2 linked regions of the Homo sapiens genome follow. The protein of the gene in region 2 binds, or shares a complex with, the protein of the main gene of each other region. Each region holds a gene or a part of one and is shown on either strand. Other genes may lie near its edges. The genes, in order: SYNRG and AFTPH.

Region 1 (7,303 bases), on a different chromosome or scaffold from region 2:
GTATAAAGGGCAAAATTTGCCCAAGAGATGAGAAGTATAAATTTTTTTTTTCTTTAATCAAGGCAGAAAAAAAAAAGAGTTGAAAGATCTGGATTAGTCTGTAGTCATTGAATGCTTACATGGGTAAGGTACTGTTCTTGATGCTGTAATGAATTAAAAAGACATCAAAACATGGTCCCCATCCTTGGAGAATGTACAAAATAACTGTGGTACAAAGTAAAGTGGAACAAAGAGGTCACGTTCTTCTGGGATGTTATCATCTGTGAACTTGTCTATTTTTTCCTGATCTTTTACAAGCTTTTAGAGGGCTTCCTCATCTTTTCTTCTTTCACTGCTTCTAGCACATTTTTGCACATAAAAAACATTCTGTAAATATTTGTGGATTTCAGCTATATCAAAGGCAAAGAAGTGGTATTTCATTTGGCCCACAGAGTTAGAGGAAGAGGAAGCGGTCAAGAGATCGTCACAGAGATGGGAAGGCCTAGTCAACACTAAGGAAACGATGTACCTGCAGTGCCAGATGACTGTGGCTCTGAGTGGCAGAGAAGAGTTTTGTGAGATAAAACTGCAAAGTAGAGTTGTGCCCAAACTAGAGAGGGCCTTGAGTTTAAACTAAGGAAATTCAGTTTCAGGGAAATCATTTCATAGTTTTAACTTCAGGGGTGCGTCTTGCTAAAGGACCATTTAATTATTGCGTAATGGTCCATCATTTAGAAAGATGTCTCTCACTTGTGCTGCATCAGATGAATTAGAAACCAGAGTCTGGAGGTGGGGAGATCCATTAGGAAGTCTTTATGTAGGAGTTTAGGCCTAAGAAGTGAAGCCTAGTGTCAAATCTAGGTTAGTAGCAAAGGTAACTGAAAAGGAGGGACGGATGAGATAGGTAAGTGACAGAGCTCTGCTTTCATACCGAGATGTCAGTAATATAAGAATTAGTGGTTTTACCTTTGAAATTAAATTGTTGGTCACCTTCCTGCCCAGTTTTTTGCCAAGCTTTTACTGTCTTATTAATGCCTTAACTGCTTATCTAACCAATCTTTAAGCATGTTGTTATTAGTTGTCTAAACATTTCAGAGAAAAATATGAATTTTTCATAGGTCACTAAGCAGTTCGATTTGCTAAATTCTTACTAGAGAAAGTCATGTTTGACAGTATTTTGTTTTTATTTCATTTTCAAAGTAACCTTTATACATCTGTTTATGTATTCATGTCTATGTGATTGTCTTAGCTGAGACTTTAGCAGCCTTGATTCTACGTCCTCATTTGACAGAGGGGAAACCAGACAGGGGGTAAAGGAGATTGCACAGAGCTTCACAGTTACTTTATGGCAAAGCTGGAAGAAAGAAAATATACACGAGTTTCCAATTCTTTTGAGCCTCTAGGCCATATGACTAATTTAAATGTTTAAGCCTGATTTTTAAAAATCTTGACAGCTTGATTACTTAAATGTATTCATTGCTCCTGAATGTATCAATTTTAGCATATGAGTAATGTCTTTAAAAACTGAATACAGGCATACCTCATTGCAGTTAGCAGATACAGTGTTTTTTATAAATTGAAGGTTTGTGGCAACTCTGCATTGAGCAAGTTTATCCGCGCAATTTTTCCACAGCCTGTGTTCACTTCATGTCTCTGTCACATTTTGGTAATTCTCACAATATTTCAAACTCTTTCATTATTATTATTTGTTATGGTGATCTGTGATCAGTGATCTTTGATGTTACTAGTGTAATTGTTTTGGAGCACCACAAACCCAGCTCGTATAAGACAGCAAACGTAATTGATAAATGTTTTGTGCAGTCTGACTGCTCTACCTACCAGCTGTTCCCCGGTCTTCCTCTCCAAGGGCCTCCATATTCCCTGAGACATAACAGTATTGAAATTAGGCTGATTAACCCTACAGTGGCCTCTAAGTGTTCAAGTGAAAGGAAGAGTCGCCCATCTCTCCCTTTAAATCCGAAGCTAGAAATGATAAAGCTTAGTCATTAAGTGTTGAAAGCTGAGGTAGGTCAAAAGCGAGGCCTCTTACACCAGTTAACTAAGTTGTGAATGCAGAGGAAAAGTTCTTGAAGGAAATTAAAAGTCCTATTCCAGGAAACACAAATGTTAAGAAAGTAAAACAGCTTTATTGCTGATATTGAAAAAGGGTGAGTGGTCTGGATAGAAGATTAAACCACCCTTAACATTCCCTTAAGCCAAAGCCTAATTTGAAGCAAGATCCTTAGTCTCTTCAATTCTGTAAAGGCTGAAGGCTGAGAAATAGGTGAGGAAGCTGCAGAAGAAAAGTTGGAAGCTAACAGGTCAGTTTATGAGGTTTAAGCAAAGAAGCTATCTCCATAACAAAAAAGTACAAGGTGAAGCAGCAAGTGCTGATGTAGAAGCTTTAGCAAGTTATTCAGAAGAGCTAAGATCATTGATGAAGGTGGCTACGCTAAACAATAGATTTTCTTTTTTTTTTTTTTTTATAGACAGAGTCTCACTCTGTCACCCAGGCTGGAGTGCAGTGGCGTGATCTCGCCTCAATGTAACCTTCGCCTCCCGGGTTCAAGTGGTTCTTCTGCCTCAGCCTCCCCAGTAGCTGAGATTACAGGCACGCACCACCACGCCAGGCTAATTTTATATTTTTAGTAGAAATAGGGTTTCACCATGTTGGCCAGGCTGGTCACATACTCCTGACCTCAGGTAATCCACCCACCTCGGCCTCCCAAAGTGCTGGAATTACAGGCATGAGCCACCATACCTGGCCAGATTTTCAATGCAGGTGAAGATGCCATCTAAGACTTTCCTAGCTAGAGAGGAGAAGTCAATGTCTGGCACCAAAGGACAGGCTGACTGTCTTGTTAGGGCCTAATGCAGCAGGTAACTTTAAATTAAACCAATACTCACTGACCACTATGAAAATCTCAGGGCTTTTCAAAAGTATGCTAAATCTACTCTGCCTATAGTCCATAAATTGAACCACAAAGCCTGGGTGACAGCACATCTGTTTACAGCATGGTTTACTGAGTATTTTAAGCCCATTGTTGAGACCTACTTCTCAGAAAAAAGTTTCTTTTGAAAACGTTACTGCTTCTTGACAATGTGCCTGGTCACCCAAGAGCTCTGATGGCAATGCATGAGAAGGTTAATGTTCTCATGTCTGCTAAAGCGGCATCCATTCTCCATGAATCAAGGAGTAATTTCTTCTTTCATCTCTTATTATTTGAGAAATTCATTGTAAGGCTATATCTAAGGCTATAACGCCCATAGATAGTGATTCTTTTGATGGAACTGGACACAGTAAATTGAAAACTTTCTGGAAAAGAATCACCATTATAATTTTTATGTTATTTATTGTTGTTGTTGTTGTTATTATTATTATTTTGGAGAGATGAGGTCTCACTATGTTGCCCAGGCTGGTCTCAAACTCATGGGCTCAAGCAATCCTCCCACTTTGGCCCCCCAAAGTGCTGGGATTATAGGTGTGAGCCACCAGACCCAGCCATTCACTAGATTCTCTAAAGAGTATCTAGAAACCTCCTTTTCAGATCCTTGACTCCCGGATTAAGAGCCTTTCTCACTCAGAAGTCTTCCTTGATTTGTCCCTTTTTCTTTCCAGGCTCAGAGAAAGAAGTCCCACTTCCTTTTCAAAGCAGATCCCTTTTGCTACTTTGTTTTGTTTTGTTTTGTTTTGAGACAGAGTCTCCTTCTGTCATTCTGTCTGCTCAGGCTGGAGTGCAGTGGGGCAATCTCAGCTCACTGCAACCTCCGCCTCCTGGGTTCAAGCAATGCTCATGTCTCAGCCTACTGGATAGCTGGGATTACAGGCACATGCCACCACGCCTGGCTAATTTTTGTATTTTTAGTAAAGATGGGGTTTTGTCATGTTGACCAGGCTGGTCTTGAACTCCTGGCCTCAAGTGATCCGCCTGCCTTGGCCTCCCAAAGTGCTGGGATTACAGGCATGCACCACCTCATCTGGCCCCCTTTTGCTCCTTCGCGTGTTAATCCCATTTCCTTAAAAACCTTATAAATCACTAGGTATGTATTTTGTCTCTTAAATTTTTTCTCCCTAGGGTCTCTTCCCCTTTCTTTGTTGAAACTAACTCACTTAACAATCACCATTTTTGAAAGCAGTGATTTATTTTTTAATCTTCATTCTCACCGCTATTCTACAGCATTAGACACTGGTAACTACTTCCTTGTTGAAATGTGGTCCTTCTTCAGTTATAACTCTCAGTTATAAGCACTCCCTTGGTTTTCAATGACCATTTCCTACTCAGTTTTCACTGCAAGAATTCTCCAAGTTTGTCCTTAGTTGTTTTGTTACTGGATATATGCCCTTGGCTATTTCATCTACAACCAGAGCTTAATTTTTTTTTTTTTTTGAAACGGAGTTTCACTCTTGTTGCCCAGGCTGAAGTGCAATGGCGCGATCTTGGCTCACTGCAACCTCCGCCTCCTGGGTTCAAGTGATTCTCCTGCCTCACAGCCTCCTGAGTAGCTGGAATTGCAGGCATGCACCACCATGCCCAGCTAATTTTGTATTTTTAGTAGAGATGGGGTTTCTCCATGTTGGTCAGGCTGGTCTGGAACTCCCAACCTCAGGTGATCCACCTACCTTGGCCTCCCAAAGTGCTGGGATTACAGACGTGAGCCACTGCGCCTGGCCAGAGCTTAACTTTTTAACCTTTATTTATTTATTTATTTGAGACGGAATCTCACTCTGTCGCCCAGGCTTAACCTTTATTCAAAAGAGCCTAGGCCAAGTGCCGTAGCTCATGTCTGTAACCCCAGCACTTTGGGAGGCCAAGGCAGGCAGATCATGAGGCCAGGAGTTCAAGACCAGCCTGGCCATCATGGTGAAACCCTGTCTCTACTGAAAATACAATAATTAGCCAGGTTTGGTAGTGCTCGCCTGTAGTCCCAGCTACATAGGAGGCTGAGGCAGTAGAATCACTTGAGCCTGGCAGGCGGAGGTTGCAGTGAGCTGAGATCATGCCATCACACTCCAACCTGGACGACAAGAGCAAACTCCGTCTCAAAAAAATAAAATAAAAATAAAGTTGTCAGCTTAAAAAAAACCTTAGAAGAGAGCTTTCTTACGCTCTAAAATGAGGACTTATTGTTTAATGGGTACAGAGTTTCTGTTTGGGATGATGGAAAGGTTCTGGAAATGGATAGTGGTAATGGTTGACAATATTGTGAATGTCCTTAATTATGCCATGGAATTATACACTTAAAAATGGTTAAAAATGATAGAATTTTATGTTATGTATATGTTACCACAATAACAATAAAACCTCTGACAACTTCATATAATATTCAAAATAAAATGAAACATTTTAAAGGCCCTTGACCAGGTGCGGTGGCTCACACCTGTAATCCCAGCACTTTGGGAGGCCGAGGCGGGTGGATCACCTGAGGTCAGGAGTTTGAGACCAGCCTGGCCAACATGGTGAAACCCTGCCTCTACTAAAAATACAAAAAATTAGCCAGTCGTGGTGGCGGGTGCCTGTAATCCCAGCTACTCAGGAGGCTGAGGCAGGAGAATTGCTTGAACACAGGAGGTGGAGGCTGCAGTGAGCCAAGATCGCGCCATTGCACTCAAGCCTGGGCAACAAGAGCGAAACTCCATCTCACAAAAATAAATAAATAAATAAAAATAAAAATAAAGGCCCTGTACAATCTGCTTGCTTTTAAATCATATAGTTAACATTTAACCTACATTCATTTCTCCAAACATCCCTGCATCTCTGCCTCAGAGCTTTTGCTCAAAATATATAGTGTGCTTCTATTTTCCTTCAAGATTCAGCTCCAGAGCTACTTCCATAAAACTTCTCAAGATATAGCCCATTAAAATTCATCTTTTTCTTCTCATCTCTATTAATAATTTGGACCTCGCTTATAGCAGTTAGCACATTTACCCTGTGGTATAGTTATTTGCCTGCATATGTGTATTTTTGATTATAAGATTCCATCATTTCATGTAGTTGACACTCAATAGATGTTGACTGAATTGAATCTAAACTCTCTCATTTTATAGATGGGGAAACTGGAATCCAGAGAGGACACGAAGTGACAGAGCCAGGACTAATTTCAGGGTCTTCTGTCTTTTGTTTCAACAAGTTTCCGTCTGCAGTAGCATGCTGACATGCATCCTATGGATGCTCAGTGTACTGATGTTGGGCAATTCAGTATTGTGGTGCAGAACAAACACCAGGTCCCATCTACAAGTCTTTTATCCATATAAAAAAGTACACGTGTTATTTGAAATCTTTGTACATACGAAGATTATAATGTATTTTTATTCTGTTTTCAGCTTCATGTTTCCTGTTGCAGGTGGGATAAGACCCCCTCAAGGTATGTGAGAGCTTAAGTTTTGAACTTTTATTTTTCACTCTTGTGTTTCTGAATCTGGGAATTAAATAAGTAAATAGAAAATAAGTTCTGTTGCTGCTGAATAGAGTAAAATTTTCTGCACTCTTAAACCTGTATGTCCTATATGACAGCTACTCTTAAATTTTCTCAAAAATTATATAATTTTGGGAGTAATAAGGATCACTCCTCGTTTCTCCCAAACTTACATAGACATTATGTTCATAGATTGTTTAACCTCAGAGGTGAAAGACTTTTAGGACAAGAATGTTAAAGAACAGGTGATAAAAATGAAACGAGCTGTAATTCACTTAATGATGTCTTTCTCCTTCTATCTAGTCTTCTGCTAGATTGTTAGTGCCATGTCTGTCTAATGCTCATCTAGCATTATTTGTAGCACCCAGCATGTTGATTCAGCACAATAGGTTATCTGTAGATGTTTGTTGAATGAATAAACAAACATCTTTAGTTGTTTTACACTGCTATTTTTTATCTATATGATAGTATCTTATTATAATCATGTTTTATAAATATATAATTTTGAAATTAAAAGAGATCACATAGTCTGATTCAGCTTAAGTATTTAAGTCTCAGGATTTTGTTTGGTTTTTTATTTTTATTTTTGAGATGGAGTCTCTTGCTCTGTCGTCCAGGCTGGAGTATAAGTGGCACAGTCATAGCTTACTGTAGCCTCAGCCACCTAGGCTCAAGCATTCCTCCCACCTCAGCTTCCCAGGTAGCTGGGACCACAGGTGCATACCACCACGCCTGGCTAATTTTTAAATATTCTGTAGAGACAGGGTCTCCCTATGTTGCCCAGGCTGGTATCAAATTCCTCGGCTTAAGCGATTCTCCTGCCTTGGCCTCCCAAAGCACTGGGATTACAGGCATGAGCCACCACATCCGGCCAAGTCTCAGTTCTATTCCTAGAAATTTCTCTAAGTAT
Region 2 (3,481 bases):
CTGGCAACACAGGAATCTGCCAATGACAGAGGTGCAGGAGTTCCACTGGCACATTCCCAGAGTGGATGAGGCCGACTGTCAGCTGACTGCCTGTTCCTGATGCAATGTCATGTGACTTTTTGCTGAAGCAATATCTAATATTCTAAAATTTTTAGACTTTTTCTGCCTACCTTCATTTCACGCTTATATATTCTTGGAAAGAAAAAAAATCCCTACAAATCCCTATTTAACCTTGCCAATACTCTGATGAAGACACATTATAATGAATCATGGGAATTTCTTTACTGATCTCATGTTCTATATAAAAACAAACAGCTCAGCTACTAAAAGTGCTGATCCAATTCTTATAGGCCAGATTCTAATTCTTCCTGGCTTCAACAAAGTAGAAGCCCTACCAAAGATTTTCTCTGGATTGAAATATGTTAATATTCAACAAAACTTCTCATTCAAACTCATTACATTTTTCCTCACATACCAAAGTACAAAGACACCAGGCTAAATTTCTTTTAAATTATTTTATTTTTGTATAAGCTAAAAGGAAATTTACACACTGAAATTTCAAAAGACCTTGGGCATGCACATTAACCTTGTTAGAGGTTCTTCTACATGTCTCTCTTTTTTCCATAGGAATTTCCCCAAACATTTAAAACCCATAGTTTTCACTGTATATACAGCCTAAACCATAGCAATCTATGATTATGTCATTTTACACTGTGCAAAATCCTCAAAAAATAGTGGTACAATAGAACAAAAAAATCAGTAACAAGTAAATTCCATTGTAAGACATTCATATAATTTGGTCCTTCTCTGAATCATACTGATTTTAAACAGACACAATCTCTTTAAACCCCTCCAATCAAGTTCTGACAATGATCCATACCCTATAACAAAAGAGCAATTAAGTACCTTGCAAAAGGTCAAACAGCAATACGCCAGATTGAAAAGATTAAAAAAGCCCCAAAATGTTAACAAAAGCCAGATCTGAAACCCATCATACACAAAATTAAAAAAAAATTAAATGGGGGACTTTGGAGCTTATTTATGATAGCAAAAGTAATTTGACATGTAATATGAAAAATCAAGAGGACAGTCAATGCAATCTGAAAAGACTGAAGGGGATTTCACAGACAGTGAAGATTTGAGTTTTTTTTTTATTTCAAAAGTTTTGTAAGAAGGACACCACCAGTGTATTTCACAAAGACATAAATGTATACACCCCAGCAACACAAAAAGAATAAATCTTCAAAAATGTTTACCCCCGATTATTTACATTTTTCTAATATAAATTTAGGACTTCAGTATGTAAATAAATATACATTACTATGTATACCTTTCTAGTGCGGCTTACCAACAAATCAGCTGAACTTGAATTTTTTTTTTTTTTTTTTTTAATTAGAGCAGGTATGCTTTTGATGGTAGGGAAGGGATGGAAAAAAGGAAAAGCAATAGAAACTGTCCAATTCACATCAGTTATCCGTCTGCTTTTTCTTGAGAGCTTGTGGAAGGTGTTAACGTGGCTGGGAACATCAACACCTTGGCATGCATGAATGTTAAGTCAGGAAGGCCAGCGATCACCTTGATAGCTTCTTCACTTAGGTGCTCTTCTCTTTTCGGTTTCCTACTGACAAATGAAAAAAAGACAAGTGTGTTAATGTGACTTTGCTGTAGGTAAAATGGGAGACAATCCACTCTCAAGGTAGACAGTTAGCAATCTGTGGGGACTTGAGTATTTTTTCCTCTGCTAGTTCCTGAATCTTGTAATACTTTTGTGCAGTATGCTTCCTGTGCCAAATGCCAAATCTCATGAAGAGTGACGTGCGGCCTATTTATGTTCATTAAAGCTAGGCATGCACACACAGATACTCACATGCACACCTAGACAGCTCGTGTACTTTCTAGCCTTTACATTAGGCTAGAAGCATCTACCCAGGCATAATTTTAAAATGTTACTAAACAGAAATATAAATCTGAAGCCTTAGTAACACTCCACCTAACTGGGTTTTTCCCTGCCCCTCCACCCGCTAAAACTACCTCAGCCTGAAACAAAGTGTGCCCAGGGAAAGACTAAGTCATTTTAACCTCAGGCTCTCTTTATCCCCAGTGGGGAATTCCAGGAGAGAAAGCTCTCAGCTCAGAAGACCCAGTCTCAGCCTGTTGGGATACAGACAGCAGGTCCAAAAGCAGCAGCACTAGGGCTGGTTGCTGGTGTTATTATGCACGTACACAGGCAGGACGGAACTCTGGGTGAGGGAAATCTCAAATCCTATGGGTCCTGTAGATGAAGTAGATTTTGCTGCACTGGCCCCCGATATGGGAAATTAGCAGTTTGGTGCCTAACACAGACAAGAAAATGCCTGGTGACCCAGGTCTACTCAGCAGGTGAGCCACAGAAAATGCCAAATGAGCCTCAAATTGGGCACATGATTGCAATTCAAACTTTTTCTGGGATATTAAATATATTAAAGGAGTAGTTATACATATTATTCGCTTTAGACCAAAAATCATTTCAAGTTGTTCATTATAAAAAGCCTAATAATTCTCTTTTATGGTAAAGGATAGCTGGTATTCTTAGATGTGACACAAGGTATTTCTTTGACCTAAATGTTTCCTTTTTCCTTGGATGGGGTGCAGGAAGCCAGGAGGTAAAGCAAGAAAGGAAGGATAGCTACAGGCTTTTTTATTCCTAGGACTTTTCTGTTACCACTTTGAATCCAGACTGAAATAAAAAGATTTTATAGAATGAATGAAAAATCCAACGACTTTTAGGACTAAAGTTTTTCAAAAGGGAAAAAGCATCAGGCATATAGCAGATGAACCAAATACTGCATTCAGTACTAGGTTCTTAGAAGAATGGAATAGCAATCCAACATTTTTTTCTGATGAAAATCTACATTTTTAATTGCACTTAAATAGTGGCAAAACTATTATGTGGACGTTTGATGGGGAACTGGATATCTGCATCATTCCAAAGTAAAACCAGATACATGACAAGTGAAAACCTGGAACTGTATAATGGAAAAGGTCAGTTTCTCACCAATCGTCAATCTCAGCACCACTAACAATGGAGTCAACCAGATGTATGGATCTTCTGATGTGATATAACACCTAGGATGCATTCTAGCCAAAATATTTACCCTGAATTCAGCAAGCCTTTAGATATAATTTCCAATTTACAGGAAAATAGGGAGATAGAGAACACAGCAAATATTACTTGAAGGAAGCAAACAGACAAATCCAGAGCTTTTAGGACATTCTGTAGGACACCTATACTAATCTTTATATAAGCTACTGTTAATAAGAAAACAGAAGGAATGAGGAGATATGCTAGGTTAAAAGGGACTTAAGAGCCCCAACAGCCAGGTACAATAGTCTTCAATTGAATACTGGTTTGTACAAAGCTGAGAAAGGATAGTTGGAGAAATCTGAATATAGCCTAAGTAGATGAAATGAAAACTCACTGAAATGGACAGAGATCACTGAC

The links.
Region 1: AFTPH (region 2) and SYNRG share a complex: the UniProt entries of both Homo sapiens proteins name them as parts of the aftiphilin/p200/gamma-synergin complex.

What each region holds. Positions count from the first base shown.
Region 1 is NC_000017.11:37,599,402-37,606,704, reverse strand, and holds part of SYNRG (synergin gamma), read left to right. Parts: intron 1-6,301; coding exon 6,302-6,342; intron 6,343-7,303. UniProt on the Homo sapiens protein: Plays a role in endocytosis and/or membrane trafficking at the trans-Golgi network (TGN). May act by linking the adapter protein complex AP-1 to other proteins. Component of clathrin-coated vesicles.
Region 2 is NC_000002.12:64,590,025-64,593,505, reverse strand, and holds the end of AFTPH (aftiphilin), read right to left. Parts: intron 1,622-3,481; coding exon of another isoform or gene 1,619-1,621; coding exon 1,471-1,618; 3' UTR 501-1,470; downstream 1-500. UniProt on the Homo sapiens protein: Component of clathrin-coated vesicles.